4 separate regions of the Homo sapiens genome follow, and all the other regions are linked to region 1. Evidence: fine-mapped QTL for protein levels in blood plasma. Region 1 holds a variant in brackets. A gene starts in each other region. All regions are shown on their reverse strands.

What was found. A credible set is the group of variants that fine-mapping cannot tell apart. PIP is the chance, under the fine-mapping model, that this variant and not a neighbour inherited with it causes the effect. Protein levels are from antibody-based Olink assays in UK Biobank. Linkage for the fine-mapping came from a reference panel and not from the study's own genotypes, which makes the PIPs less certain.
Region 2: it holds the start of OSM, and the variant in region 1 is the best candidate, but not a certain one, in a credible set for the plasma level of the OSM protein (UK Biobank, PIP 0.52).
Region 3: MMP9 starts here. The variant in region 1 is the best candidate, but not a certain one, in a credible set for the plasma level of the MMP9 protein (UK Biobank, PIP 0.64).
Region 4: OLR1 starts here. The variant in region 1 is the best candidate, but not a certain one, in a credible set for the plasma level of the OLR1 protein (UK Biobank, PIP 0.72).

What each region holds. Positions count from the first base shown.
Region 1 is chr11:73,233,012-73,239,088 of GRCh38, reverse strand. P2RY2 (purinergic receptor P2Y2) reads right to left here. Exons shown (of 3, transcript NM_002564.4): 3 at 1-4,933. The coding sequence starts at 4,929. The coding sequence ends at 3,796. Among named protein-coding and RNA genes, the nearest start is that of P2RY2, 18 kb to the right of the region's middle. RefSeq lists enhancers at 951-1,245, 1,831-1,880. The variant A/G (reference allele first, on the strand shown) is at 3,855.
Region 2 is chr22:30,266,397-30,272,473 of GRCh38, reverse strand. It overlaps OSM (oncostatin M), which reads left to right and starts at 5,623. Exons shown (of 3, transcript NM_020530.6): 1 at 5,623-5,708. The coding sequence starts at 5,675.
Region 3 is chr20:46,005,473-46,011,549 of GRCh38, reverse strand. MMP9 (matrix metallopeptidase 9) reads right to left here and starts at 2,642. Exons shown (of 13, transcript NM_004994.3): 1 at 2,486-2,642; 2 at 1,452-1,684; 3 at 919-1,067; 4 at 500-628; 5 at 234-407. The coding sequence starts at 2,623.
Region 4 is chr12:10,170,760-10,176,836 of GRCh38, reverse strand. OLR1 (oxidized low density lipoprotein receptor 1) reads left to right here and starts at 4,705. Exons shown (of 6, transcript NM_002543.4): 1 at 4,705-4,835. The coding sequence starts at 4,760. It also overlaps a transcript of TMEM52B not described here.

The sequences.
Region 1 (6,077 bases):
CCAGGCACTGTGAGGAGGACTTTGTGCGTAATAACGTAGGGAAGCCCCTCAACGCCCTGCATGGAAGGTAGCAGCACACTTTAGAAATGGGAAAACTGAGGTGCTGCAAGATTAGGTAACTTGCCCAAGAGACCCCAGCCAGGAAAGTGGGGACAATATTGACACTGAGGTGGTCTGGGTGGAGCATCTGTGTTCTCACATCCTTGCTACACTGCCTCTGTCATCTTGAATCATGCGAGGGGCCACTTATAGACCCTTCTGCCCTGCAGGGCTGTGAGTGTCGTGGGGCACTATAAAGGGCATGATTCTGGCCATCAGGTGAACCTGGACTCACTCTGACTCACCCTGACAGCCTGGATAACCTGGAACAAGTCCTCACTTCTCACGCCCTTCTCCTGTTTCCTCATCTGCTAAATAGGATCATAGCATCTACTTCCCAGGGCTTCTGTGAAGCATCCACCATATAACATAGATGAGAGGGTGCGTGGGACATGGGTCAATACACGACTTCCCTCCCTCATGTGCCTGATTCTAAACAGAGCAGCCCAAATCTGCCATGACAAGGGTGACAGAGAGGTAGCTTTGGTGACTTGACCTGGAGCAACCATGTGTGGATAACATGTTGCTTAGGGCCTCTTCTAACCTCAGGGGGTGAAAGTGGGAATGTACCCTGGGGTTCCTCCATCCCTCCTGGACCCTGGGACACCTGCCACCCAGGGCAGAGACCCCTGTGTGCCAGGGACCCTGCCCTGATGTCATGCAGTTCATTGAGAACAGCTGCTGCAGGCACATCAGCAGACATTTACTCCCTGACACTCAACTCTCTACCCTCCCTTTCCTCCCATCCCTGTCCTGTCCCTGGCCTCAGGTCTATGGCTCCATCCCAGTCACCCTGGGCAGGAAGAGCTGGGCAGTGTGAGTGACAGCAGGATCGTCACCAAGGCACTTGCTTACATCCAGGCGCCACGCTGACCTGCTGAATGACCTTGGGCTCAGCCCTGCCCATCTCTGGCCTTGAGTCTGCAGCTGGGCTGGATAATCCCTGGGGTCTGCTCAGTGGATGGGCAACTCACGTGCCCTTTCACAGTGGCCTTCATGAGTCAACAGCCCAGGAAGTGATGTCAGGTTAGGGAGGTGTGAAGGGGGCAGGGAATATTGGAGGGTAATAGGAGATATTTTGAGGGCAGGCAGATCCCCTCACGTCACTGCTGGACAATGGTCTGGGGCCAGGAGTGGAAAATTATGGTCTTACTTGGGCTGAAAATAGCATGAGGCATCAGGGCAGGAACTTCACCCACAAGGCAAGTGGCCTGGGCACTGAGCAGCAAGGTGGGACGTGCATACCAAGGGGCCAGGCAGTCCAACTGGGTTCCAGAGGTGCCCCTGGTTCACCCAGGGTCTCCAGTATCCACCCCCACCTGTGCCTGCCACAGGATTAGATGGTGAACGAGCCCCTCCTGTGTCCTTGTGGAGTGGCTCGGGCCTGTGGGAAAGGCTCAAGGGTGGTTTGTAACAGGCAATCATTAAGAAAGCTCAAGAGGGGCCGGGTGCGGTGGCTCATACCTGTAATCCCAGCACTTTGGGAGGCTGAGGCAGGTGGATCACTTGAGGTCAGGAGTTTGAGACCAGCCTGGCCAACATGGCGAAACCCTGTCTCTATTAAAAATACAAAAATTAGCCAGGTGTGGTGGCGCATACCTGTAATCCCAGCTACTTGGGAAACTGAGGCAGGAGAATTGCTTGAACCCGGGAGGCAGAGAGTTGCAGTGAGCCAAGACCGCAGCACTGCACTTCCAGCCTGGGTGACAGAACAAGACTTCGTCTCAAAAAGAAAAAAAAAACTCAGAAGGACATCGGCTACATTAACAGAAGTATAGAACCTAGAAGGTGAGAGGTGAATAGCTCACACTATTCTGGGCAGGTCACCCACCTGGCACAGTACAGAGTAATCATTTGGGTCATGGTCTGTGATGGGTCTCTGTCACATGAGGGCGCTGTGGAGTCAGGCTCCAAATACAGCAAGCTTTGGGGATGTCCTGCCTTTCACAAGGCAGAGTGGGAAGGGTGGAGAGGTCAGAGGGGGCAGGCAGAGTGGGCCACAGGGCGAGGGCTCTCCCAGAGGGAGAGGAGGGAGTCCCTGTCCTTGAGATCAAGAGTGAGGCCTGTCAGCTTTGCCCTGTCCCTTTCCAAAGGCTAGGGCGGGGCCCTGTCCAGCTGAGCGCCACACGTCAGCCCAGAGTGGTCCTGGCTAGACTCAGAACCTATCATAGGTGAGACCCATCTCCCCCATACTAAGTCCTGACCCAGCCTGAGCACCACCCTGCCATTCTGGGATTTTCCCAGAAGGCAGACGATGGACAGGAGGAGGAGTGAATCTCTTTCATATTTACCCCCAGTGCAAAGGAAGCCTCAGGGTCAGGGCAAGGAGGGAGCCCTAACTTGGCCTCCTTGTGACCCAGCCCCAACCCTGCCTTGAGCCTGGAGTCAGCTGTCCAGCCTGCTTATGGCTCATGCACACCCTGCCCTCTTGCCCCATGTCTTTGCCTGGGATGCATCCTGTGTGTGGATGTTCTTCCGGTGAGCTGCTTTTCTCAGAAGCTACAGCTCAGGAGTCTCCCACTCCAGGAACCCTTCCCTGACCCCCTGGCTCACAGCCCCAGCCACTCGGCATTATCCAGTGGTGTGCTAGAGTGACTTGTACCTGCTTGCAAGAACCAATTGTTAAATTTTCAGGAATTTTACAAGGAAGTTGACATCATGTTTATAGTTTGAATTTGGCCATAAGAGTTTTTGCACCATGGAAATGGGCAGTTCTACAAAGAAGGGGTTCCCAGTTAAATCGGAGCTCCAGTTAAATGGCTTAACATTTACCAGCACATGACTGGCCATCACCTAAACTGGGAAATCTCAAGGACTGGGACTGCACCTGACTTTTCTCTGTGCTCAGCACAGAGTCAGGCACAGAAGCCAACTGGCTTTACAGTGGGGGATGACCTGGGGCCTGGAGAGAGGATCCCTGATATGAGACTACTCCTGAGACAGCTAGTGAGAAGGCAGGTGGCAGAAGGGAACGGATTGGAGAAAGGACCCTTGTGTGGCTGGTGAAAGCTTCCCTGCCATATCCTCATCCCCCGACCACACAATAGGGCACAGCTCAGCAGGCAACACAACCTTTAGTATAAGTTACAGCCTCACACTGGCTCCTAGCCCATGGGAGCCTCCAGATGGGTCTATGATATTAGTCCCCAGATGTTCATCTCTTGGGCTGGGGGTACTCCTCAGAGCTAAGTCCACCGTGGCACCCAGTCCATTCCAGACCACTGTGCAAACTCAGCCCTCATTACTTACCAGGGTTTTCTGGCCAACCTGTGACTTGGCCCCCACCCCAGGTAGCTCAGCTCCAGACTCTGGTATGTGATCTTGGTAAGCCACCTTCCTCTCTGGGCCTGTTTCTCCATTTGACTTGATTAGGCTGGACTCCAACCTAGGTACCTTGGCAGTACAGCCAGCTACTTGCATGGGAGTCAGGCCAGGGGTGTCATTGACCTTGAGCTCTTGCCTTTCTTGAAACTTAATTCCCCCAACTTATACACACAAACGATGACTAGGGGTTATGGGAACAGTTGACTCTGGACCACAGAGTGAATATCCTGAGCCCCTGTCAAATGACGGAGCATGGGGTCATCCAGCATGAGTCACTGATGGTCCATATCTGGGGAGACTGTGGCGTCTGCACAAGTCCTGGTCCTCTACAGCTTCCCAATATAAACCTGCACAGGCTGAAGTGTTCTGCTCCTACAGCCGAATGTCCTTAGTGTTCTCGCTACCAGCCGGCGTGGACTCTGTCCGCCTAG[A/G]GTCCTCACTGCTGCCCAACACATCTTCTATCCTCTGCATGTCAGTTCTGTCGGATCTGCGCAGGCCCAGCCTGCGGCGAGCCGGGGTGGCAGGGCTGGGGCCAGTGGGTGGCTTGGCATCTCGGGCAAAGCGTACGAGCCTCTGCCCAGCCAGGAAGTAGAGCACGGGGTCAAGGCAACTGTTAGCACTGGCCAGCGGCCGGGTAACCTTGTAGGCCATGTTGATGGCGTTGAGGGTGTGGCAGCTGAGGTCCAGCGAGCGGAAGGAGTAGTAGAGGGTGCGGGTGACGTGGAATGGCAGGAAGCAGAGGGCGAAGACAGCCAGCACCACGGCGATGGTGCGCACGGACTTGCGCTTGGCCCTAGGCAGGCCGCCCGAGGTCCCGTAGGCTGGCTTTAGCAGTCGCCGAGCCATGAGCACGTAACAGACAAGGATGACGGCAAAGGGCACCGCGAAGAGCAGGCCCAGCATGACTGAGCTGTAGGCCACGAAGCGGCTGAAGAGCTCGGGTGCCGAGGTGTCGTGGCAGGTTACGCGGCCCCCGCGCGCGCTGGTGGTGACAAAGTAGAGCACGGGGGCCTGGCAGGCCAGCACCAACACCCACACGGCCCCGGCCACCCGGCGAGCGTAGCGGGCCCGGCCCCAGCGCAGGGAGCGCAGAGGTCGTAAGACGCCCAGACACCGGTGCACGCTGATGCAGGTGAGGAAGAGGATGCTGCAGTAAAGGTTGGTGTAGAAGAGGAAGCGCACCAGCTTGCAGAGCACCGTGCTGAAGGGCCAGTGGTCGCCGCGGGCGTAGTAATAGACCAGCAGCGGCAGGGAGGCCGCATACAGTGCATCAGACACAGCCAGGTGGAACATATATGTGGTGGACGCATTCCAGGTCTTGAGGCGGCACAAGAAGATGTAGAGCGCCACGGCGTTCAGACACAGCCCAGGCACGCACACCACGCCGTAGGACACAGGCAGCAGCACGTACTTGAAGTCCTCGTTGAAGCGGCACCTGTAGCCCAGCTCATCCCCATCCCAGGTGCCATTGATGGTGTCATTCCAGGGGCCCAGGTCTGCTGCCATCGCCCTGCAGGGAAGGGAGGGGTGGGGCCATCAGGGTTGTGGCCGGAGCGCCCCTAGGGGACCTGACACAGCCACCTGACCAGGGCTTTCATTGCCATCTGACTTGGATCTGGACCTGGAACCTCCAAGCTCTGGAACCTTGAGAATGCATGAGATCAATGAATAAATATCAGGATCACACAATTGTCAAACTTGAGAACAGGGGTAGACAAACTATAGTCCAAAGGCCAGATCCAGTCTGCTTTTGTAAATTCAGCTTTGTTGGAACACAACGGTGCCCATCTGTTTACAAAGAGTTGAGTAGTTGTGATAAAGACCATATGGCCTGTGAAGTCTAAAATATTCACTATCTGACCTTTAAAAAAAGTTAGCTCAAGCTGGCTACGGTGGCTCATGCCTATAATCCTAGCCACTCAGGAGGCCAAGGCAGAAACCAGGTGTTTAAGCCCAGCCTAGGCAACAAAGTGAGACCCCATCTCTACAAAATTCTTTTAAAAATTAGCCAGGCATGCTGGCACACACCCGTAGTCCCAGCTACTTGAAGTTTTCTTACCCCTCTCTAGAACCTCAGGATCAGAGTTTTAGATCTAGGATTCTGAGCTCTAGAATCTGAGGACCTGGGGGTGCCAGAGCAGGTAATTTTGAGTTCATGGGAAGGGGCCTTTGAGGCTGGCTGGCCCTGCTTCACACCCAATGCCTACTGCCTGCAGAGGCATTTCTGGCCAGTGGGCATCCAACAGCCCCCTGCAGGCATTACAGAGTTCTCTCCAGCTCATTTTCCCACTCTCTGGGAGGCTCTGGGCCCATGCCTAGTGTTCTGGTATTTGAGGAAGTATTTCCAAGGGTCTCCTTCTTCAGTTATTCCTTCACTTTTTACATCTTCCTCTATTCTGGCACTTTCTATATCTATCAACAGCAGTCCTGCCCCTGAGCCTGTGAGGCTACCAGGGAATCCCCCTGAAGTAACCCCCGTGAAGAGTCCAGGGAAATCTGGGTTGGAGATAGGGATAGGGGGCCAAGGGATCTTCTTTTGTGTGGTAAATGCAGCTTCTTCCATGCCTATCCAGTTTCTCTCTGCATATCGTCAGTATCATGGTGTCCCCCCCAACCTTGTCCCCACTGAGCATATAACACACCCATGGGGACTG
Region 2 (6,077 bases), not on the chromosome of region 1:
CCCAAAGTGCTGGGATTAAAGGTGTGAACCACCGTGCTCAGCCTCTTTTTTTTTTTTGTCCAGAGACAGAGTCTCACTCTGTCACTCAGGCTGGAGTGCAGTGGTATGAATATGGCTCACTGCAGCCTTGACCTCGCAGGCTCAAGTGATCTTTCGGTCTCAGCTTCCTGAGTAGCTGGGACCACACAGGTGCAAGCCACCATGCTCAGCTAATTTTTAAATGTTTTGTAGAGATGGGGTCTCACTTTTTTGGCCAGGCTGGTCTTGAACTCCTGGGCTCAAGTGATCCTCCCATCTTGGCCTCCCAAAGTGCTGGGATTACAGGTCTGACCACTGCACCTGGCCTATGTTTTCAATTCTCTTGGGTGTATATCTAGGAGTGGAATTGTTGGTTATATGATATCTCTATTTATTTTTTTTTTTTTTGAGACAGTGTCTCACTCTGTCACCCAGACTGGAGGGTAGTGGCACAATCTTGGCTCACTGCAACCTCCGCCTCCCAGGTTCAAGCAATTCTCCTGCCTCAGTCTCCCGAGTAGCTGGGACTACCGGCGAGTGCTACCATGCCTGCGTAATTTTTTGTACTTTTAGTAGAGTTGGAGTTTCACTACGTTGGCCAGGCTGGTCTCAAACTCCTGGCCTCAAGTGATCTGCCGGCCTCAGCCTCCCAAAGTGCTGGGATTACAGGCGTGAGCCACTGCCTCTGGCCTCTGTGTTTAACCATTTGCGGAACTGCCAAACTGTTTTCCAATTTGGTGGCACCATTCATTGTAGATTCCCACCAGCAATGCCCCAGGGTTCTCATCTCTCCATCTCCTCGTTAGCACTTGTAATTGTCTACCTTTGATTATAGCCACCCTAGTGAATGTGGAATGGCTTCTCATGGTGGTTTTGATTTGCATTTCCCTGGTGTTTAGCATCTTTTCACGTGCTTCTTGGCCATTTGTATATCTTCTTTTTTTTGGAGAAATGTCTATTAAAATCCTTTGCCCATTTTTAAATTGGATTGCTTGTCTTTTTCATTGTTGTTCAGTTGTCATTGCAGTTTAAAAAGAGGAAACTGAGGCTCAGAAGGGGGACATGACTGGTCCAGGGACACTGGGCTCACAGGCAGATTGAGATGGAACTTGGGTTGGTCTCCACCTCCCACCCAGCAGATTGGGGGCCACCTTCTCTCCCCCCACCAGAGCACCTCTCCCCAGCCTCCAGTTTCGACCTGGCCCTGCCAGGCCATCTCAGGTCCTATCCTTGCATTTAAAGGCGTAGGGCCCCACAGCAGAGGGTAAGCCGGAAAGCGAGGAAGCAGCAGTTCTGAGGAACCAAGCTGGTCCTCTCTTCCTCTCCAAATCACGCGGGCCTGGCTGACGTGGCCCGGGAAGAGGGGACAGCCCGGGTCCTGTGGTCGGGGAGCCTATTTATACTGGCTGGGCCATGTTGCAAGCTTTTCCTGCTGGTGAGAGGGACGTCACTGATTGCTGACCTCACCAGAAACGCTGACGCATCTTTCCTCACGCTTGGCTGGGATGGTCAGCGGCCAGGCCTCCTCACCTCCGAGCCACTCCCTGTCCTCCTGTGTATCACTTCACTCTGGATGCTCCGACAGTGGCCCCAGCCCCTGTGCCCTCCAGCTATGCCTTCCTCTTGCAGGCTGCATGGACTGAATGGTGTCTTCCCTGAACTCATGTGTTGAAGTCCTAACCATCGTGTGTCAGAACGTGACTGTATTTGGAAGTTGAGCCTTTAAAGAAGTAATTAAGGGCCGGGTGCGGTAGCTCACGCCTGTAATCCCAGCACTTTGGGAGGCCATGGCAGGCAGATCACTTGAGGCCAGGAGTTCGAGACCAGCCTGGCCTACATGGTGAAACCCCGTCTCTACTAAAAAAATACAAAAATTAGCCAGGCATGGTGGTGGGCACTTGTAGTCCCAGCTACTCGGGAGGCTGAGGCAGAGAATTGCTTGAACCTGGGAGGCAGAGGTTGCAGTGAGCCAAGCTGGCGCCACTGCACTCCAGCGTGGGTGACAGAGTGAGATTCCATCTCAAAAAAAAAAAAAAAAGAAAAGAAAAAAAAAAAGAAGTAATTAAGGTAAAATTGGCCAGGTGTGGTAGCACATACCTGTAATCCCAGCTACTCTGGAGGCTGAGGCAGGAGGCTCGCTTAAGGCCGGGAGTTCAAGGCTGCAGTGAGCTATGAAAGCACCACTGTACACTTAAGCCTGGGCAACACAGCAAGACTTTGTCTCGAAAAAGAAAAAAAAAAGGAATAATTAAGGTAAAATGTGAGTGGGCCCTAATCCAATGTGAATGGTGTCCTCATAAGAAGAGATAAGGCCAAGCGCGGTGGCTCGCTCCTGTAATCCCAGCACTTTGGGAGGCTGAGGCAGGTGGATCACCTGAGGTTAGGAGTTCGAGATCAGCCTGGACAACATGGCGAAACCCTGTCTCTACTAAAAATACAAAAATTAGCCTGGCGTGGTGGCACACGCCTGTAATCCCAGCTACTCAGGAGGCTAAGGCAGGAGAAGCGCTTGAACCCAGGTGGCAGAGGTTGTAGTGAGCTGAGATCGTGCCACTGCACTCCAGCCTGGGTGACGGAGCTAGACTCTGTCTCAAAAAAAAAAAAAAATCGATTAGGCCACGGACAAGCAGAAGGAACATGATGTGGAGATACGGGGAGAGACAGTCATCTACAAGTCAAGGAGAGAGGCCTTGGGAACCAGCCCTTGATTTCAGACTTCAGCCTCTAGAACTGTGAGAAAATAAATCTCTGTTACGTAAGCCCCCCAGTCTGTGGTACTTTGTTATGGGAGTCCTAGCAATGTAATCTACCTGCTCTCCTTACCTTCAGTGACTCTGAGCCCTGGGCCCTGTGCCTGACACCCTCATTAACTATGTGCAAAGAGTATGGTCTTTGGGCCTCGTTTGAATGCCTTCTTTTCTTGGTGGGTTTTTTGTTTTTTGTTTTTTTTAAACAGGGCCTTGCTCTGTCACCCAGGCTGGAGTCCTGTGGCATGATAATGGCTCACTGCAGCCTCAACCTTCGGGGCTCGAGCGATCCTCCTGCCTCAACCTCCCTAGTAGCTGGGACTTCAGGTATGCACTACGATGTCTGGATAATTTATTTTTACATTTTCTGTAAAGACACAGTCTCGAAGTCCTGGGCTCAAATGACCCTCCTGCCTCGGCCTCCCAAAGTGCTGGGATTACAGGCGTGAGCCACCATGCCTGGCCAAATGCCCCTCTCCTCTTAACTATTCATAGGTGACCTCAGACAAAGCAACCTCCTCTCTCTGCCATGAGGAGACAGCACGGCCTCCCTGGACCACAGGATAGATAGAATAAGATAAAGGCATGTGGCTGTTTCTCACCAAGCGTGGTGGTCGGTCAGCCACAGCTGAAAATGGCCTAGACCCCTCTGCTCAGATCTGGCGCTCCTTCCTTGAGCCAGCCCCTAAACTTCCCAGAGCTTCGAGCTCCTCACTGAAGTGAGCTGAGGTGTCACTGCCCAGCGGCTTCTCTCCCCTGGCTGTTGCAGGATGAGATCGGTGGCTGGGTGCTGTGGCTCACGCTTGCAATCCCAGCACTTTGGGAGGCCAAGGCAGGAGGATCATTTGAACCCAGGAGTTTGTTATCAGCCTGGGCAACATAGTGACACCCCGTCTCTACAAAAAATAAAAAAATTAGCTGGGCATAGTGATGCATGCCTGTGGTCTCAGCTACTCAGGAGACTAAGGCGGGGAGCCTTGCTTCAGCTTAGGAGCTGGAGGCCACAGTGAGCTACCTACAATGGCGCCACTGCACTCCAGCCTGGGTGACAGAGCAAGATCCTGCATTTAAAAAAAGAGAAAAAAAGACGAGATCAGGGATGTGAAATGGAGAAGGATCCCCTCTTGGCATGGCCCCAGGAAACAGCATTGTGGGGGTGGGCACAGAGATGAGGACTTCAGCGGAAGCGACATTCTCAGGATGAGAATCCAGAACTGGCCCCTGGGGGTGGTGAGGGGGAGGTATGAGGCCTGGTGTGGTGAGTCCCAGCCTGGGTGCCGGGGAGTGGGTAGGGGCTGAAGAGCAGCCTCCTGGGCGTGGGGTCGCCTATTTTTGCCTACTACGTGATCCTCAGACCTGGGAGTGGCTGGTGCAGCATGGAGCCAAATAAAGGTTTGTCGAATGAATAAATGAGTGATGGGGAGAATGGGTGGCAACTGCCTTGGTGGCCACAGTGGGCATCGGGAGCAGGCATGGACAGGGGTGCATCCAACCTCCTCCTTTCTGGCTGCCCCAGCTCTCCTTGCTCAGGCGCCCCAGACCCCATGCTCCCTCCAGCTGGAGCAGCTCAGGCCTCCCTGGCAGCCTCCAGGAGTCCCACCCTGACTCCCCAGACTCCTGAGGGCCTCCTCCCACCCGGGCTTCTTAGGGTGCAGGCCAAGGACCCTCCTCTGGGCCTGGGAGATGTGCTGACCAGGCAGGGTCTATAGGCCTGGGCCAGCCTCTTGGCCTCCCTGTCTGCCTTCACCCAGGCCTCAGTTTACCCCACAGTAAAGTAGCAGTTTGACTAGGGAGGCGCTGTTCCCAGGGCCCTTTCGCAGAGGACCAACCTAAGATCGCTATCTTTCAGAGAAAGTGAAACCTGGTCCCCAACTGTCAAGGCGGCAACTCCCCCTCCCCGGCTTCCCCTCTGAGCTCACAGCTTCCCCATCTCCTCCTTCCCCCATCCCGCCCCCTCGACAGCTAATACTTGGAATCAGACCTTCATCTTTGCTTTTTCCTTCAGAGGTCTTTTCCTTTTATGTCCATGCTGGCAGCAACCCTGTGAGGTGGGCTGGGAAAGGCTTTTCTCCTCCTCATTTTATAGTTGTGGGTCTCTGAGGCCCAGAGAGGTTAAGTGACTTGCCTCAGGTCACACAGCACCTCAGCAGGCTTGAACCCTGGCCTCCTGTTTCTCTTGCTCCAAGTGTCCAGTTCTCCCCAGTGGAGCCTGCCTACAAAGACAAGGCCTGGCTTTGGGGAGTGGGCCTGGCAGAGGGTGCACGATGGGGGAAAGGAGACCGTCGGGAGCCGGGCTGGGGGATGCTGGTCCTGGGGCCTGAACCACAATCTCGGGGCTGCCAGCCTGCGTCTGGCTCTGTGCCCAGAGCCCGGTGGTTTCCGCTCACAGATGTCCCAACAGCCCCGGCGAGAGGGCAGGAAGGGCACTCAAGAAGGAAGATGTCTCGCTCCCCTCAGCCCCCAACCACCGTGTCCTGTGAGGCCAATGGCTCCTGGGCCAAGACTGGCCTGGGGCCTCCAGAGGCCCAGCTCGAAGTCCCTCCTGCCCATCCCTGGCCCAGTTCCCTGAAGATGGCATGGACCCTTTTCCTCCCCACTCACCCTAGGAAGGCTGAGGCTGCGGTTTTACATCATCCTTGGGCGTAGGGCTGACCTCGAAGAACGAATTCGAAGAAAACAGGAGGAGGAGCGGGCATACACCGCGCCCTGCGCCCATTGGCCGCCCGTGGAAATTTTGGTTTTTGGGGTCATGTTCCCAGAAGGCCTGCCCTCCCCCCTCCCCATCCCCACCCACCTCATGAGGTGTTGGCCAATCGCCCCAGCGGGCATAAAGTGGCTGCCAGCCTGCAGGGCTCCCAGCCGAGAGGTGTCACCCCCAGCGGGCGCGGGCCGGAGCACGGGCACCCAGCATGGGGGTACTGCTCACACAGAGGACGCTGCTCAGTAAGTACTTCCTTCCTCCCCGCCAGAACCCGCCTGCTGGGTCTGCCCACGGGTGCCGGTGGGGAGCAGAGGCACCCTCTGCCCTCCGGGAACTGGGGAGGCCAGGCGCCAGGCAGAAGGATGCTGAGAAGGGGAGAGAGCCAGGAGGTCAGGCAGAGAGAGTGGTCCACTGAGAACCTGGCATCTCCACAGGTAGAGAAGGGGCATCCCTGGAAGGCTTCCAGGGGGAGGTGATGTCAAGATGTAGAGGCAACTCTGGGAACCAGGGGGTGAGAGAATAGGATGGGCAAAGAGGCTGGGCAGGAGAGGGAGGCTCAGAAGCTGGGCAGGGAAGTGGTGTGAGGTGTGGAGGGGTTGTGGGGCCTCCAG
Region 3 (6,077 bases), not on the chromosome of region 1:
GGGGGAGAAGGCGGAGACAGCACATTATAACCCCCAAGTGTGTCCTGTTCTTTGACCCATGGATGGTCTGCAGTTCATCCCATCTCTCATCATTTCTCAGATGAGAAAATTGGGCCCAGAGTGCGGGAGGGTGAATTGCAGGCCACACAGCACTAGTGGCAGAGCTGGAATTAGAACCCAGGACCATCAAGGGTGGTGGGCGCCCCCAGCCCTCGGCGAGCCCCCTCACTCACTCTCGCTGGGGCAGAAGCCAAACCGGTCGTCGGTGTCGTAGTTGGCCGTGGTACTGCACCAGGGCAAGCCGTCGGAGCGACCGTCGGTGGTGCAGGCAGAGTAGGAGCGGCCCTCGAAGATGAAGGGGAAGTGGCAGGCCGCGCCATCTGCGTTTCCAAACCGAGTTGGAACCACTGCAGGAGGAGGGGGGACCGGAGTTAGGGCGGCGGGTGATGAGTGGGAGAGAATGAAGGGAATCAGGGGCCAGGAGGACTCAGAATCTCACCGACGCCCTTGCCCAGGGACCACAACTCGTCATCGTCGAAATGGGCGTCTCCCTGAATGCCGGGGCCAGGAGGAAAGGCGTGTGCCAGGAGCCCGTCCTTCCCGTCGAAGGGATACCCGTCTCCGTGCTCTGAAGAAACAGGTCGAGAGGAAGAGGGTTAGCCGAGTACTGCTGCGCAGATTGTGCGCTGCCCAAGGCAAGGGCTCCGAAATAAGTGCGGGCTGAAATCCCGCCTGCGCGAAGCTCTCCCAGCCTGGCGCCCTGGCCCTGTGCACTGTCTGGCAGGAGGGGCCGTATAAGCCAGGGCAGCGCGGGCAGGCAAGAGGAAGCCGGGGCCACTGCTGCCTCCACGCTCTCCGTGGTCCTCCCTTCCCTGACCCCGCCCAGGTCTCTTGGATTTTCCCTCCTCACGTTCTCACCCGCGACACCAAACTGGATGACGATGTCTGCGTCCCGGCTGTACACGCGAGTGAAGGTGAGCGGCGTCACCGCGCTCCACAGTGCGAAGGCGCGGGCAAAGGCGTCGTCAATCACCGCCCGCGGCAAGTCTTCCGAGTAGTTTTGGATCCTGTAGCGTAAGAGCCAGAGGAAGGAGGTCAGAAGTGAAAGGCTGGAGCGGGGCAGCAGGGACACCCCATATCGCAGAGACTTCAACATACACAATGCTCTCTGCCGTCCACGCTCTCATCTATAAATTGCTTCCAGACTGTTTTTTTTTTTTTTTTTTTTGTCTACTTAGACCCTCACAATGGCCCTGGCAGGAGGACTTGGATTGCAAGAGCCATTTCCCTGAAGGAGAAACAGAGGCTCAGAGGTGGGGACACTCCCCAGGGGCCACACATTAAATAGTGAAACCCAGGGACGCGTCCAAGACAGGACATGTTCACCGCTGGCCCAAGAGCCAGACCTGGCCTCCCCGCCCCACCCCGCTGCCCCCACGGCCCCGGCTCACCAATAGGTGATGTTGTGGTGGTGCCACTTGAGGTCGCCCTCAAAGGTTTGGAATCTGCCCAGGTCTGGGACCCCGCACCGTGGGGTTCGCATGGCCTTCAGCGTGGCGCTATCCAGCTCACCGGTCTCGGGCAGGGACAGTTGCTTCTGGAGAAGCAGCAGCGCAGGCCCCAGAGATTTCGACTCTCCACGCATCTCTGCCACCCGAGTGTAACCATAGCGGTACAGGTATTCCTGTGGATGAAGGGACACACACATGCCAGATCTCTGACCCCTTTCTCTGCCCAGCTGGGGCCAAAGGACTCCCTCCAGACACTCATGGAGGGAGTCTTTTTTCTTTTTCTTTTTCGGAGAGACGGTATCAGCCCACTGCAGCCTGGACCTCCTGGACTCAAGCGATCCTCCCATCTCAGCCTTCTGCATAGCTGGAACTACAGGTGCACATCACTGTGCCTGGCTATTTCTTTAATTTTTTTGTAGAGACAGGATCTTACTATGTTGCCTAGGCTGGGCTCAAACTCCTGAGCTTCAGCGATCCTACCACCTCAGCCTCCCAAAGTGCTGGGATTACAAGTGTGAGCCGTCATGCCCAGCAGGGACTAACATTTAATAAAGCATTAAATGCTTTCCAGACACCAGTGCTTTCTGACCACCCAGGGATCTCCCCTCCTTAGACATCCTCAGCTCCTTCTCACCCCTGGATGCCTCTAGCCCATTTCTACCCCACAGCTGCATAAGGTTTGCCCCTGTTCACTCCCAGCCTATGCTTACCCCAGAACCCTCCAATGCCTCCCCCACCCCAAACCATTTCCCATTTCCCACCTAGGAAAGCCCCATTGCCCATTTCTGGCCATCACTGCTCAAAGCCTCCACAAGACCCCCCACTGCCTAACCCTGGACACCTCTGTTCTTCAGATACGCCCATCACCACCAACACACCCCTAAAGCATCTCCTCTGAGGCCCTGCATCCTCTCTGGGACACTCAACACCCTCACGGACAGCCCTCCCCAACTCTAGACTAGGTGTTTGCCCACCTCTGCCAGCTGCCTGTCGGTGAGATTGGTTCTCAGGTCTCCAGGGAAGAGCACAAGGGTGGACTGGCGCTGTCTGGGGGCAGCAAAGCAGCAGCCCAGCACCAGGAGCACCAGGACCAGGGGCTGCCAGAGGCTCATGGTGAGGGCAGAGGTGTCTGACTGCAGCTGCTGTTGTGGGGGCTTTAAGGAGGCGCTCCTGTGACCCCACCCCTCCTTGACAGGCAAGTGCTGACTCAGGGGTCAGGGTGTGTGTGTGTGTGTGTGTGTGTGTGTGTGTGTGTGTGTGTGTGTGGCAGCACCAGCATGAGAAAGGGCTTACACCACCTCCTCCTCTCTCCACTGCCCGCAGTCTCCACTGCCAAGTCAGGCAAGACCCCAGACCCGCAGGAAACCGCAGGCCCTCAGGGGAGGGGTAGGGTTTTGCAAACTGCAGAGCTTGTGGGAACTGTATGAAAGGGAGGGAGGGGGATGAAGCTGGAGGGATCCCCCATCCCTTGGTCTGAAAGCCTCCAGTGGTCAGCCAAGGGAAAGTGATGGAAGACTCCCTGAGACTTCTTTCTGAAACTAATGATCCCCCTGGCCCATCCTTGGCCTTTTGCAACACCCCCTCCCAGGTCAGATATCCTCCCCAAACCCCTCCCCACACTCCAGGCTCTGTCCTCTTTTTCCCTCCCTGACAGCCTTCTTTGACTCAGCTTCCTCTCCCTGCTTCATCTGGGGGCGGAAGGAATGGGCTCTGCTAGGCAAGGCTGGGGAATTCCACTGGGGCAACCCCCTGTCTTCCGCAGGCTGAATCTTCAGGGCAGTAAAGGGGACAGTAGCAGCCTCTAGAAAACAGCAGACATGGCTTTACTCTCTTCCTTCAGGACCTCGGGCAAATGTCTTACCACTTTGAAGTGTTTCCTCAGCTGTAAAAAAAAAAACGGGGGGTGGGGGGCTCTTTGTCCCTAAATTGATGTGAGGATTAAATGAGATCAAACATATAAAATGTTTAGAACACTGTAGGTTGTAAGTCCGCAACGGATGGTGGTGATTGGTTTTAATTACTAAGGCCAAGACCCAAGATTCAGGGCCAGGTATGGTGGCTCATTCCTGTAATCTTAGCACTTTGGGAGGCCGAGGTGGGAGGATTGCTTGAGCCCAGAAAGAAGGTCAAGGATACAGTGAGCCATGATTATGTCACTGCACTCCAGCCTGGGCAACAGAGCGAGACCCTGCCAAAAGACCATGATTCTAACTTGGAATCACCAAACCAGGTTATTGGGCTCTAAGCTGCAGTGTAACCTGGAGTAAATGCCTTCCCCTTTGTCAGCTTAGGATTCTTCAACTGCAAATTGGGGCAGGATATGGGGGAAAATAATCTATAGGAGCCCTTTCAGTTCTCCAGCCCTGCTCCATGCAGCCAAATCTCCAGCCCCAATTATCACACTTATGCCAAGCCTCCCTCCCAAGCCTCCCACACCAGCAGCCTCCCTCACTCCTTTCTTCCTAGCCAGCCGGCATCGGGCAGGGTCTATATTCACCTTCTTCAAAGCCCTATTTGGGAAAAACCTGCTAACAACTCAAAAAGTTGTATTTATTTATTTTATTTTATTTTTGGGGGGTGTAGTATCACTCTGTCACCCAGGCTGGAGTGCAGTGGCGTGATCTCGGCTCACTGCAACATCTGCCTCCCGGGTTCAAGCAATTCTCCTGCCTCAGCCTCCCGAGTAGCTGGTATTATAGGCGTGCGCCACCACGCCTGGCTAAATTTTTTGTATTTTTAGTAGAGATGGGGTTTCACTACGTTGACCAGGCTGGTTTCGAACTTCTGACTCAAGTGATCTGCCCACCTGGCCTCCCAAAGTGCTAGGATTACGGGCATGAGCCATGGCGCCCGGCCCAATAAGCTGTATTTAAAGGGCCTACTATGTGCCAGGCATTTTATATGCTTATCTAATAAATGAGACTGTGAGATGGAGATAATTAACTTCCTTTACAGAAAAGTTGAAGTTCTAAAGTTCACTAACCAATGAACATCTGCTTTGCAGTCACGAAGTCCTGGATTTCCATCCCGGCTCTGCCATTTTCCAGCTATGTGACCTTGGGCAAGTCACTTTACCTCTGAACCATAATAATAATAATGCATTTTTTGAGATTTACTGTGTCAAGCACCGTAATAAGTTCTCTATAAGCCTCTCGTTTCATCCTCACCACCTGTAAGGTAAGTTTAATGAGTATCCCTCCTGTTTTCAGAGGGGGAAACTAAGGCTCAGAGAGTTAAGGAATTTGCCTGTGATCACAGAGCGAGTTAATCCACAGAACTAGTGTTCAAGCCCAGAACTGCCTGGCTCTGAAGCTTTTCATCTTTATTACCATTTACAGGGAACTGTGATGACCCAGGTATAGAAGTGGGTAGGTGGATGCGGTGACAGGGGCAGCACATAAAACCTGGATGCTTCTCCTCTGGTCCCCTGCTACCCACTGAAGGTAAGAGAGGAGGCCCAGGCATTTAGGGAATCAGAGGCTAGGACAGGGGACCCAGGAGGAACTAGATTCTAGACTCGGGAATGTGAGGTCATAGAGTAATATGAGTTTAGAGGAACAGATCTTCCAATCTGGAGGATCTTCATCTGGGTGGCAGACACGGGCTTTTAGGAAAATCCGTTAACTACCCCCCACTTGCCATCAATGGTACCAAACATGACATACAATACATATCTATGTATGTATGTCACATAGCTCAAACTTAGCACTATTGGCACTTGGGGCTGTCGTGTGCATTGTAGGATGTTTAGCAGCGTCCCTGACCCCTACCCACTGGATGCCAGTAGCACCTCCCCCTGCCAGTTGTGACAACCAGAAATGTTACCAAACATTGCCAAATGTACCCTGGGTGAGTGGGAGGGGCAGACTCACCCCCAGCTACTGGTATATGTTGATTTTTCTATGTAAAGGGTCTAAAACTTTTATCAGATACTCAAACCATTGTTGATGATCTTCAGACCTTTTAAAGACCATTTACTCAACACATTCTAGTTGAGTTTTTCTAGGCCAATCATTATGCTAAGAATTGGGAATACAAGTAGTGACCAAGATAGCCTTTGTCTCATTGTTCATGGATCTGAGAGTTCAGCATGGGGAGAAATTGAATGAATAATTAATTACCAGAGAATCAGGCATCAAGAAAGGAAAGTGGATTTATGTATTCCAATTACCCTCATCATGCAATGAGGAAACTGAGGCTCAGAGTGGTCACAGAGCAAGAGCCTGCACTCTGGAGCCAGGCTGCCTAAGTTCAAATCTCAGCTCTGCCACTGACTTGCTGTGTGACAAGGGCAACTGACACAACATTTCAGTGCCTCAGTTTCCCCATCTGTAAAATTGGAGTAATAATAGTGCTTCCTTCATGGGGTGGTTGTAAGGCTCAAAGTGTTAGCAAATATAAAGTGCCTGGCACATGATAATAAGTGTTCACTGCTATGCTAATTAGGACCACCTTCAGGACAGCCGCTGTTTTTTACCAAATGGGAGCAGGGAGAGAGCAGCCAGGAAACCCAGATCTTGATTCCTGGAGTCAATCCAAATAAGAATCCTCCTTTTTTTAACATCC
Region 4 (6,077 bases), not on the chromosome of region 1:
GCAGGTTATTAGACCTCTATTGGCTCATTTTCATTTTATATAAAATGGGGGTAATAGTAGTAATATTTACTTGATAGCCTTATACAGATTAAATAAGTTAATGTGTGTAAAATGAATATAACAGTCCTGATATTTTTTGTGTTTGCTAAGATTATTTTGATTTTCACTAAAGTTTACCAGTGACCTTTACTTTCAAGATTCTGGATAATTACTGTCCTTTATGCTTCTCTTGTATATTTTTATACCATTCCCTCTCCAGACCACATTTTAGTCTCCTGATATTCTAATTCTTGAATATTTTTCCTTGCTAGCCTGGCCACCTTTTCTCCCAACCACGCCAGCCTTCACCTGCCTAAACAGGTTTGCTGGTTAACATGACTCCCCGCTCGCATTGCACTTTTCTAACACGTAATTGCCATCATCTTTTTGCCCTCCAGCTTCCAAACAGGTTTGAACAAAATAGGTTCTGTTAATGACCTCCTTGTGACTTTCCTTTCTTAGAATTATTACTACCCTTTTTTTTTTTCTCACCAGATTAGTCCCTGGAAAGATAAAAGTTTGTTTTTATCCTAATGAATGAGATTATGCCTTGGGGCAGCTTTAACTCTGAATCCTGTCCCTAACCAAGCCTCCATATAGGGAATGATGAAAGAAGAAAGATAATTCAGACAAGAAGACTGAACGAAGTACACTTTGGACAGGTACAGAAGGGCAGGTAGCTGGGATAGAGGGAAATGGTCTCATTACAATCCTATACAATCTTGTGCAGTTCCATTAAGCTTGTGAATCATTAGCTTATGTCCAGGTAGTTAAGGACTTGGAGTGGAACCAGTAGAGGGTGCATGTACATAGAGTTTTACACCTATGCTTCAGGGAATTGTTATACAACTGGTGTAACAAGTGTAGCCAAACAAATTGCTTACTTCTGGTTCCACTGATCATTCTCCTTTTGACCTTGCCTAAGTCAGGTGGCCAACTATGGATTTCTTTCCTCTCTGTGCCTCAATAAAATAGAGGCCAGGACTCTGAGGCATCAACCTCAAACTATAAGTCAGTGGGTAGGGCCACAGCCCTGATTTCAAAAATAAATAATATAGCAGAAGAAGTTTCATCTTTGCAACCCTTGGGAGATCCCTTGGGAAGTGTTTCTGTCTGATAAGCCAAGATCACAGCATAGGGATTGAGTGACAGCTTCAAAGGCACTGAAATCAGTAAAAAGATTAGAGTTAAAAAAGTTAAACAAGACAGAAGGATTCAGTTTATCATAGAATGTTTTAGGTTGATATGCTGTGTAACACATCACCACAAATTATGTGAGCAGCAAGGTAAAACAATGTACTTTTATTATTTCAAAGTATCTGTGAGTCAGAAGTGTGGGCACAACTTAGTTGGGTCCTCTGCTTGATGTCTCACAAGGCTGCAGTCAAGGTGGCTGCTGGGTTGCACTCTCATCATGCATTCTCAGGTGAGCCTGGGAAGATTCACTTGCAAGCTCCCTCAGGCAGAATTTATTTCTCTATGGCTGCAGGATCCATTTAAGCTTGCTTTTAAAAATCTAGACAGGGAGATAAAGATGGAAATAGGAGAGGGAGAGTGACTTTAGCATAATAGTCACTATACCTTACATAAGCACACGTAGATGATCACATACATTCCAGCACCTCTGCTACACTCCAAGTCATAGGTCTCACTCACACTCAAGGGGAAGGATTACACAAGATCATGAACACCAGGAGGCAGGAATAATGAGAGCCCTCTAAAATTTTTCAAATCTGTCCAGTTATCTGCCACACAAGGACTGTAGAAACTATCCCACTGATCTTTAAAAACAGGATAAACCCAAACGTCCATCAATGGATAAATAAAATGTAGAATGTGGTTTATACATACAATGGAATATTATACAGACTTTAAAAGGAACAAAATTCTGACACATGCTACCACATTGATAATTGTTGAAGACATAATGCTAAATAAAATAATTTAGATACAAAAGGACAAATATTATATGATTCCACCAGTATGAGGTGCCTAAAATAAACCAATTTATAGAAACAAAAAAATGGAACGGTGGTTTCCAAGAAAGGAGAAAGGAATTGGGATTTGTATTAGGTCTGTGCAGAGAAAGAGGATCAATACGCTGTGTACATACATAGAAATAGGTTTATTATAAGGAATTGGCTTGTATGATTATAGAGCCTGGTAATTTAAAATCTGGAGTGTGGGCTGCCAGACTCGGCCAGCGAGTGGAGAACTGGGAGAGTTGATGGCTGAGTTCCAGTCCATAGACAGCTGGGGGATTCTTTCTTATTTGGGGGAAGGTTAGAAGCTTTTTGTTCTTTAGGCCTTCAACTTTTGGATGAGGCCCACCTACATTATGCAGCGAAATCTACTTTCCTCTTCTGATTAATATGTTAATCTCATTTAAAAGCATCCTGTCTGGGAACCCCATGACCCAGTCAAGAAGACACAGAAGGCCAGCACGGTGGCTCACGCTTGTAATCCCAGCACTGTGGGAGGCTGAGGCAGGCGGATCACTTGAGGACAGGAGTTCAAGACCAGCCTGGCCAACATGGTGAAACCCTGTCTCTACTGAAAATACAAAACAATTAGCCGGGAGGGGTGGCGGGCACCTGTAATCCCAGCTACTCAGGAGGCTGAGGCAGGAGAATTGCTTGAACCCAGGAGGCGGAGGTTGCAGTGAGCCGAGATCATGCCATTGCAATCCACCCTGGGTAACAAGGGTGAAACTCCATCTCAAAAACAAACAAACAAACAAACAAACAAAACACATGAAATTCACCATCACAGGAGTTATTGCTTGGTGGGTATAGAGTTTCAGTTGGGGAAGATGAAAAGTTCTGGAGATGGATGGTGGTGATGGCTGCACAACAATGTAAATGTACTTAATGCCACTGAACAGTACACCTAAAAATGGTTGAAATGGTAAACACTTTATGTTCTATAATATTCATGGCATCCAAAATAACTGAGTCACTGTAGAAATGATAATGTGCCCTTTTCAGTGTGATATCGTTTCAGTATTTTTTAATTCTTTTTTTTTTTTTTTTTTAAAGGGAGTCTCGCTCTGTTGCCCAGGCTGGAGTACAGTGGCACAATCTCAGCTCACTGAAAATGAAAAGCATTTTCATTTTCCACCTCCCAAATAGCTGGGATTATAGGCTTGCAACCAGGCCCAGCTAACTTTTGTATTTTTAGTGGTGACAGGGTTTCAACAGGTTGGCCAGGCTGGTCTCGAACTCCTGACCTCAGTGATCCACCCCCCCCCTCAGCTTCCCAAAGTGCTGAGATTACAGGCATGAGCCACTGCACCTGGCCAACTTTTTCAATTTGTTCTCAAATACTCTGCACATAATAAAAGGAATATAGGAAACAGGGAGGAGGAGGGAAATGGAATCCTAATTAGGCTGTCAATATTGGTAATTTTTCCTAATAGTTTCCTATATGTTTTATTTATGTATTTATTTTTCCATTCTTCCTTTGTGTATTCTTTTCTTTGCACTTTTTTTTCCTGGAGTAATTTAAAGTAAATGCCAGATATCATATCATTTTGCTTATAAATACTTCCTTCAGAAGACATCTCTAATAGATATATATCTGGTTAGGAGGTTGTCAAGGGAAAATAGAAAAGTATTCTATCAGTAAATACATATAGACATACTTATGGGTCTCTCATGTAAGCGTCTTTGTGACATGAGTCAATCATGGATTTTACTGAAATACATTATTTGATGGGTAATTCAACTGTGCTGAATATTAGTACTATACTAATAATTATTATTTATTGGCTTCTTATTATGCTCCAAGTACAAAGCTTGTCATTTTTAACCAGCGTGTCATTTGAATTCCTATAGCAACGTGACATTTTTCACAAACCTAGTGTAAAAAAGCTTATTATTTTTACCCAGCATGTCATTTGAATTCCTATAACAATGTTATCAGGTAGACATTATCCCTAATTTCCAGACATGTCATTTGAATTCCTATAACAATGTTATCAGGTAGACATTATCCCTAATTTCCAGACAAAGACATAGATTCAAAGTATTAAGATTTCCCAAGATTGTAGACTAAAGGAAAGTACTGAAACTAGCTCTTTCTGCATTCAAAGTGCTCTCTGCTGCTACGTTACACTGGCACTGCATGAACTAGTAGCCCCAGATAAATTCTAAAATCACCCAGGACACACCATCGCTGGAAATGGGAGCCATATGTGATTCACCCCAAAATTCTTAGATCCATTGCCAGATAAAACAGTGAAAATCAAAAGAGAATATATCTGATTCGTAAAAGACACCATATAGAAACAGTCTGCTAATGAAATTAGCAAACAAACATTGGAATCAAATATTTTGGCCCATAATTCTGGCACATTTTTTACAAATGTAGTGTGACTTACTCTCTTTGAATTTCAGTTTCTGTCTCTGAAGAGTGGGTACAATATCTCTCCTCTGATGCTCATGAAAAATAGTTTTCCCTTTCATAAATTACTTAGCGAAATATCCTGAAACACCTTCAGAATCACCACTTTCTCCACCTGCAATACACATAACTCAAGAATTTGCGTCAGCGAACTTCCCAATATGAAGCAAAGCCTCTCCTTCCTCCTACCAATGATTGAGTCATTCTTCTATTAGATAACAGTAGCTATTTAAATACTTCTGCAGAAGCTCACATATTTTTAGTTTGTTGAAGTTCGTGACTGCTTCACTCTCTCATTCTTAGCTTGAATTTGGAAATGACTTTTGATGACCTAAAGATCCAGACTGTGAAGGACCAGCCTGATGAGAAGTCAAATGGAAAAAAAGCTAAAGGTACTAGGGATGGGAAAATGTGTACAGGGAAAGAATCCCAGTGTTAGCCCCAAAATGTAAATTCACCGAAGAATGGGATTAGAAAGCTAAACACCCAAGTATGGGAAAATAGAATTAATACCATTTACTTAAAAGAAAAACAAGAAGGCTATAATGATGATGATGATGACAACTTATTTATAACAATTTATACTGAGTATTTACTACAGGTTATTCTATATGTTATTCACTTTCAGAGTATTATTTCTCAGAATCTTCGCAATAACATTTTGAGATTGGTACTATTACTATCTCCCTTTTACAGAGAGCTAACTGGGCATCAGGAGGACTAACAACATCATCCAGTTTCACGGAGCTAATAAGTGGTAGAGCTAGGACTGTACCACAAACTCCCATTTATCCAGAATTCTATACATCGGAGGGCTCGGGAACCAAATTTATCTGGTGTATATAACGATAATTTCTGTAAGAGTCCTTCAGGCACTACAAAAACCTGAAGTACCTCATGAATTATGCAGGCAAAGTAAATGATATTCAGTATAGTTTAGCATAAGTTACATTTTGTTGTGTACTACTGCTTTGAAAAATTGTAAGTTCTGTTTGACCCATACAGTAATTAAATTGCATAGCTATAAATTAATTCATAATCCCAATTCCACAGACAATCTGGGTAAATTGCCTTTTATTCTATATCTGTTCTGAGGAAAATGAACAGAATATAAGGAGAGAAAGAGAGACAAGTATTGTCAGAAATTTGGATAAAGAAATTCCAAATTACATTTCCAAAAACAAAACAGAAATTTCTCTCAATAGAGAACATAAGTGTGAGCATGGAGTGATTTAACATTTGAGCCAATGAACTAAATTGCTATAAAAACTGCTGATATTTATAGGTAAAACCAGAAGTGAACAATAGTCATTCGTTTCTTTACTCATTCATTATTTGTGTAGTAAATATTGAGGGTCTGAATTTTACAATAATCATGAGATTGATTTTTCTTTCAGAATCTTGGTTAGATCGGTACCTACTGCAAAGAATCGGATTGGTTTATGATTGGAAAATCACTAGTAGGGGCAGCAGTTGGATTAATGGTCTCTGCCTACCAAGGACACAGGACAAAGAGAATCTATAGAAAAAGGGAACACATACCTTCCTTCACAGGGTCCTGTGATTTTCTTTTTCCTCTAAAAATTTAGTTTTTCATTATTTAAGAGTGATGAGGCCAGGCGCGGTGGCTCACG